Linked DNA regions of Homo sapiens. The protein of the gene in region 2 interacts with the protein of the main gene of each other region in a biochemical or structural test. Each region holds a gene or a part of one and is shown on either strand. Other genes may lie near its edges.

The links.
Region 1: the proteins of MAP7D3 (region 2) and TUBB3 form a complex in vitro, tested with the Homo sapiens proteins (one study listed by BioGRID).

What each region holds. Positions count from the first base shown.
Region 1 is NC_000016.10:89,929,842-89,933,341, forward strand, and holds part of TUBB3 (tubulin beta-3 chain), read left to right. Parts: intron 1-2,729; coding exon 2,730-2,838; intron 2,839-3,500. UniProt on the Homo sapiens protein: Tubulin is the major constituent of microtubules, protein filaments consisting of alpha- and beta-tubulin heterodimers. Microtubules grow by the addition of GTP-tubulin dimers to the microtubule end, where a stabilizing cap forms.
Region 2 is NC_000023.11:136,244,901-136,248,400, forward strand, and holds part of MAP7D3 (MAP7 domain-containing protein 3), read right to left. Parts: intron 1,442-3,500; coding exon 1,343-1,441; intron 1,249-1,342; coding exon 1,165-1,248; intron 1-1,164. UniProt on the Homo sapiens protein: Promotes the assembly and stability of microtubules.

The sequences.
Region 1 (3,500 bases), on a different chromosome or scaffold from region 2:
AGGTGCTCGCCACCACGCCTGGCTAATTTTTGTATTTTTAGTAGAGACAGGGTTTTGCCATGTTGGCCAGGCTGGTCTTGAACTCCTGACCTCAGATGATCCACTGCCTCAGCCTCCCAAAGTACTGGGATTACAGGCGTGAGCCACCGTGCCTGGCACAAGCAGTTTTCTCCCCTTCCTTCCTTCCTTCCTTCCTTCCTTCCTTCCTTCCTTCCTTCCTCTCTCTCTCTCTTTCCTTTCTTTCTTCCTTCATTCCTTCCTTCCTTCCTTCCTTCCTTTCTTTCTGACAGTCTCGCACTATTGCCCAGGCTGGAGTGCAGTGGCGCGATCTCGACTCACCACAACCTCTGCCTCCTGGGTTCAAGCAATTCTCCTGCCTCAGCCTCTCGAGTAGCTGGGAGTACAGGTGCGCGCCACCATGCCTGGCTAATTTTTGTATTTTTGGGAGAGATGGAGTTTCACTATGTTGGCCAGGCTGGTCTCGAACTCCTGACCTCGTGACCCACCCGCCTCTGCCTCCCAAAGTGCAGGGATTATGGGGGTGAGCCACCGTGCCCAGCTATGAGTGGTTTTGTTTCTATTTATTTATTATTATTCTATGAGACAGAGTCTCACTCTGTCGCCCACGCTGGAGTACAGTGGTGCAATCTTGGCTTACTGCAACCTCCGTCTCCTGGGTTCAAGCAATTCTTCTGCCTCAGCTTCCGGAGTAGCTGGAACGTGTGAGCCACCACCCCTGGCTAATTTTTGTATTTTTAGTAGAGACAGGCTGGTCTCGAACTCCTGACTTCCGGTGATCTGCCCACCTCAGCCTCCCAAATTGTTGGTATTACAGGCGTGAGCCACCGCACCTGGCCTCTATTTATTTATTTATTTTGAGATGGGGTCTTGATATGAATTCCTAGACTCATGCTTCTCATGCTTGCTACCACCCAGTCCTGCCTCCTGCACAGCAGTTTCCACTAAAGTCACCCCTTTACGAGAGGCATCTTTTTTTTTTTTTTGAGATGGTGTCTCACTCTGTCGCCCAGGCTGGAGTGCAATGGCATGATCTCAGCTCACTGCAAGCTCCACCTCCTGGGTTCAAGTGATTCTCCTGCTTCAGCCTCCCGAGTAGCTGGGACTACAGGCACCCGCCACCATTCCCGGCTAATTTTTTGTATCTTTAGTAGAGACGGGGTTTCACCATGTTAGCCAGGATGGTCTCGATCTCCTGACTTCGTGATCCACCCGCCTCGGCCTCCCAAAGTGTTGGGATTACAGGCATGAGCCACTGTACCTGGCCTACTAGAGGCATCTTAAAACACATCTCCTGTGTCTCCATTCCAAAGCGCATCTTTGTCTACACTCCTGGGGTCCTCCCACGTCAGCCTCCCAAAGTGCTGGGATTACAGTCATGAGCCACTGTGCCCGGCCCCACCAAATTGTTTTCTAACCTGCTTTTTTCTTGAGGAATCTTCTGCAGCACATGACTCACATGTAGAGCCCCTTGTTTCTTGAGGCCTTCATACCCGTCAGCTCATCTAAAAGTCACTCCTGAGGAGTAAGGGCAAGGGGCATTGGGAGAGGTCAGGCAGCCCTGGGAAGCCTCCCAGCGTGTGTCCCAGGAGGCCTGCTGCCTGCAGACACTGCTCCCAGACGCAGCGGCCTCGGCCATCAGAGCGTGTCCCACGATGAGGTGGCAACTTCCCTGAAGGGCTTGCTCTCACCCAGGGGTGTGGTTCTCCGTGTGCACACAGATAGATAGTTCTACGTTTGCCATATACCATTTATATGCCTCACACAGATTAACCCACTTTCATTTCAAAAAGACCTCCTGTCATCGTGCCCATTGTACAGATGAGGACACTGAGACACGGAATCCTAGTGACCTGTGCAAGGTCACACAGCTGGGAAGGGTGAGGGAAGCGTCTGTGAACCCAGCAGGCCCAGCCCCTGAGTCTAGGCTCCGCTCGGCAGCTGTCATGGGAGCAGAGTCCGAGAAGCACTGCAGGCACCTGCTCTAGGGGGAGAGAGGTGGAGGTGGCAGGTAGAGAGAGGACGACCCCTGGGAGCTGAGACGATGCCAGCCTCACACGGACAGGCTGGGTGACCTCAGGCAAGTCGCTTCCCATTTGGGACCCCAAGGACCCTTCTGCAGACCCAGCTGGGGGTCCCCGATGAGACTGGCTCTCAGAGTCCCTGTGAGTCCCGTCAGCTGAGGCCAGTAATGTCCTGGCACCATCACTGGACATGGTTTGCTCTCCCATGGAGGGGCAGGTGTAGCAGCCAAAAGCGATCCTGAGCTCTGGGCCTCTGAACCCTGCTCTGCCAGCTACTGTGGGTGTCTCTACCCGCTCTGTGTCTCAGTTCCCTTTCCTGAAAAGAGGGGATAGTAAAAACTAACCCTCAAGGTGTTTATTACCAATGCCCTTCATGGAGGAATCCGCTGCTCCAGGCCCTTGCCAGCAGCTGCACAGCTGGGCCTGGGGACCTGGGTGTGGGTCTGTTGAACCTTGGCCCACCCTGGGGCTGTGGTCGGCCTGGACGTGTAGGTGTGGAGGTGCATATTTATTATGGCAATTTTCTGACAGGTAACAGAGTGTGGGGCTCTCTTCTGAATGGGGCTCGTGGAGGCCGTGGGTCAAAAGCCCTAATTTTGTAGTGAGGGCTAAAAGGCTTCACAAGGGAAAGGGCCTGGCTGGGGCTATGGGCCGGTGCCGACCCCCCCTCTCCCACTTTGTTTGCAGTTCTGGGAAGTCATCAGTGATGAGCATGGCATCGACCCCAGCGGCAACTACGTGGGCGACTCGGACTTGCAGCTGGAGCGGATCAGCGTCTACTACAACGAGGCCTCTTGTGAGTGCCTGCCCCAGCCTCCCTATCCCAGCCCTGGACTGACCAGGTCTCAGCGTCTGACTGACCAGGTCTCAGCACCTGGACTCACCAGCTCTCAGCATCTCTGTCCTCCCATGGGTTAGGTTGGCTGAGATGCCAGCAGGCGTAACTGGATGTCAGGCATCCAGACGCACAGAACAGACAATAAATCACAGTCACAAAAGTGAGAGCCAAACATATTAGTGCCATGAGGGCCTGTGCGTGTCCAGGGGCACAGACAGGGATGGGGCAGGCCAGAGACTTTGGAGGCCATAAGAGGGCCTAGAGAAGGGGTCACCTGGAGGGCTTAGTCAGGGGCTCTTTAGCAACTGGTGTGAAGTGATTTCCATATCAAAGTGGTGATACACCCACCTGCCCACATGGACATGTGATTTAAAATTTTATTTAATTTAATAGAGACAGTCTCGATATGTTGCCCAGGCTGGTCTCGAACTCCTGGACTCAAGCGATCCACCTGCCTTGGCCTCCCAAAGTGTTGGGAGTGCAGACACGAGCCCCTGCATCTGGTGGACGTCTGACTGAATCCTGCCTGTCCTGCTCCGTCCTGTCCTGCTCCGTCCTTAAACACAGTGAGGCTTAAGGGTGAAGAAAGTTGCTGAAGCTTGCCTTTGGTCCAGGACTCT
Region 2 (3,500 bases):
CTTAAAATAACACAACCTGTGCTAGTAACTAAAGATTTATTATAAAAGTGAACAGAGGTAGCCACTGCAGAACCATTTTCACTGAGTATTCATTTAACTCTGGAGAACTGGATTGTCTGTGCCAAATGACTCTCATCCTGTCCAAACTACAATTCCAAATTAAGAAAAAATATTTTCTTTCATGTGATATTTCTGCTGATTTGAGCTAAAGTCAAACCCTACCATATTAATATGCTGTACATTAAAATACTAATTATTAAAAACTGCATGGCCAGGATACATGTTTTGTTCCCTTCTACTAGGAAACTTCTTTCAAAGTCCTCATCTATACAGACCATATTAAACATGCCAGTTTTACATTAATGGACTTAACCATATACCATATTACAGGAGAGCAAAATTTTTCCTATATTCAAATTTTCCCTCACTAAATGCTTCTGAAGTGTGACTCTGTATAAATTAGGATCTAAAAGGATAATCTTTTTACAACTTGGTAACATGCTTTTCATCTTATCTATGTTAGGATTATTGGCAATTTATTTTCATTTTTAGAATAACTTTTACTGGCCAGGCGCGGTGGCTCACGCCTGTAATCCCAGCACTTTGGAAGGCCGAGGTGGGTGGATCACGAGGTCAGGAGATCAAGACCACCCGGGCTAACACGATGAAACCCCGTCTCTACCAAAAATACAAAAAATTAGCCGGGTGTGGTGGCGGGTGACTGTAGTCCCAGTTACTCGGGAGGCTGAGGCAGGAGAATGGCATGAACCCGGGAGGCGGAGGCTGCAGTGAGCTGAGATCGCGCCACTGAACTCCAGCTTGGGTGACAGAGTAAGACTCCGCCTCAAAACAAAACAAAAAAAAAAGAATCACTTTTACTGAAATCCCATTCTGATTGTTTTTACAAATATTGAAGAAATTTCCAGACCTTAGTTTTCAGAAAATCAAAGCTAAGATAAACTACTCCTTCAAAAATTAAACAATTTAATCAAAGAATTTTCATGGGCCTTCTTGCCTGATTTAGTAAAAGGATTTAATCCAAAATAATACATAATATAAAAATTATACTCTATCATATAAACAAATTAGGAGGAATAAGTTAAAAACACTTTGCAATATATAACACAATTCATTTTGATTTTTGAAAAAAGGTCTAAAATATACCGTCTTGCTGTCTCCTTTTCTCCTCTCTGCGCTCTCTTGCTAATCTTTGTTTTATGTCATTTTTAAGCATGGATCCATCGATTACTAAAAAAAAAAGAATATAGTTAGATATTAATAGGATATCAAATTTTAAAGATATGACACTTTGACATCTATCAAAGCATCAGAGAAATTATACCTGGTTTAAATGTCGATCTTATATTTGAGGAATGGGTTGCAACACGATTAACCACATCTTGCTTCCTCCTTTCCTTAGCAATCTCGTTTGCTGCAGCAACTAAAATACAGGGAGATAAAAGGATTAGATGTTAAGAATACGGATAGCTAACACAGGAGTCAGCAAACCACGGCCAATTGTATTTGATGATAAAGGATAGGATCACTTCTATAAATCATGACTGATTTCATCTGGGTCAACAACAAAGATATATTGAACACCTATGATCTTCAACAACACTTTAACAAAGAATTTAAAGTGTTTACTATGATGGGCCAGGGTATTTGTAGACATAAAGATAATTGAGTTGTTAGTGGCGGTGGCAGCATAAGTTTGTGGATGAGTAGGAGCCAATGATTAATAGGTTTTAAAAATGTCTCAAACAAAACATTACACCAAGTGTTAGAAATACTGAGCTGGCGAGGAATTGGGAAAATTAAGTTTCACCATAAATTGGGAATTCAGAAGATAACAGGTTAAGAATTTATGGATCTGAATTGGGAAGCAAAGTGTTAACAGTGAAATACTCAGTGAAAGATCAGGCCCAACCAATGTTAAGGAGTACATTTATAAATTACCTAAATTAGGGGCTTTCTATCCTGGTTGCACACTGGAATCACCTAACTCACTTTTAGAAAATCAGCAATGCCTGCCTGCCCGCTCCCCATCACCAGTCTCTGGCTGTGGGGCCCAGGCATCTACAATTGTTGAGCTCTATTCTGATGCATATTGAAGGTGGAGAAATAAATATTCTTTTAGAAGAAGTAATCTCCAATGAGATGGTATCATTCTAGGTAGATGTCAAGCAAACAAATATAAATTATACAAGGTGCAAACAAACGTGTAAACAGGCAGAAAAGTGATAAACTTCAATAAGGGTGAAGTGTAAGATTAGGAAAGCACAGTATGAGGAAAAGTAAGAAAACTAAAATTCCAGGATGACACACATGAGTTATTATAGGGGAATCCCTGAACCCTTTAATTCCACACATGGCTATATCTAAAATGTCCCACAATACTGAGCATCTTCAGAAAGAGTATTGAAAATAACACTGAAAACTAACTCTGTTCTTCTTTTGTAGAAAAGCACAGGAAGTAAGCCCCTGTGATGCTGCATACAAGTCTGGTTTCTATGTATTGAGAAAAATGTAACAGTTGAAGATGGGCAGTTAAAGTAACTGAGGGAATAGAGGGGCTGTCCTTGGACTTATAAAATGAATGAACTCTGAGGTGTTAATTGCTACTGAGGGAGTTATTTTACAGCATAATCTTGAAAATGACATCACAATTGCTGCCGTAAGGATCACCATTTTTTTTTTTTTTTTTTACCCCAGAGGCCGAACAGCCCAGATAATATATGACCTAGCTTAATTTGAGGATTAGACTCTTCTCAGCTTCCTTAATAATTTAAGTACTGGCAATTCCATGGACCACAATTATTTTCTGAATTTGAGCACTAGTATATTAACAAAAATTCTTGGTCTATAGACACTCCTATATACCCACTTGCAACATTTTTATGTGAGTGCAGAGAAAACAATAAAGTACTTGTAGTATTGTTTTTACACATTCAGTTCTCCTGCTTAGAAGTCCCAAGGATAGTCCGTATTTGACACTATTTAGCTGATAATTTCCCTCAAAATCTACATTTTTGGCCCAGAGTGGTGGCTCATGCCTGTAATCCCAGCACTTTGGGAGGCCAAGGCAAGTGGATCACTTGAGGTCAGGAGTTTGGAACCAGCCTGGCCAACATGGCAAACTCCCATCTCTAAAAATACAAAAATTAGCTGGGTGTGGTGGTGCATGCCTGTAGTCTCAGCTACTCAGGAGGCTGAGCCCAAGAGTTTGAGGCTGCAGTGAGCCTTTAGCATCCCACTGCACTCCAGCCTGGGCAACCCTGTCTCAAAAAAAGTATACTTTTACCAGGCTAATTAAAAATCTTATTAAACAGAAATAACCTTAGAAGTAGCTGTGGTGAGAATAATGAACCGAATCATATAAAGGTTAATGTGGTAGTAGTATCAAATCTGATTTTTAGACCTTTGTATCCAAATTCCTACTGGTAAGAAATACATTAACAGAAAGGACAGGGTTTAAAAATTATTTAAAATGTCCAGAA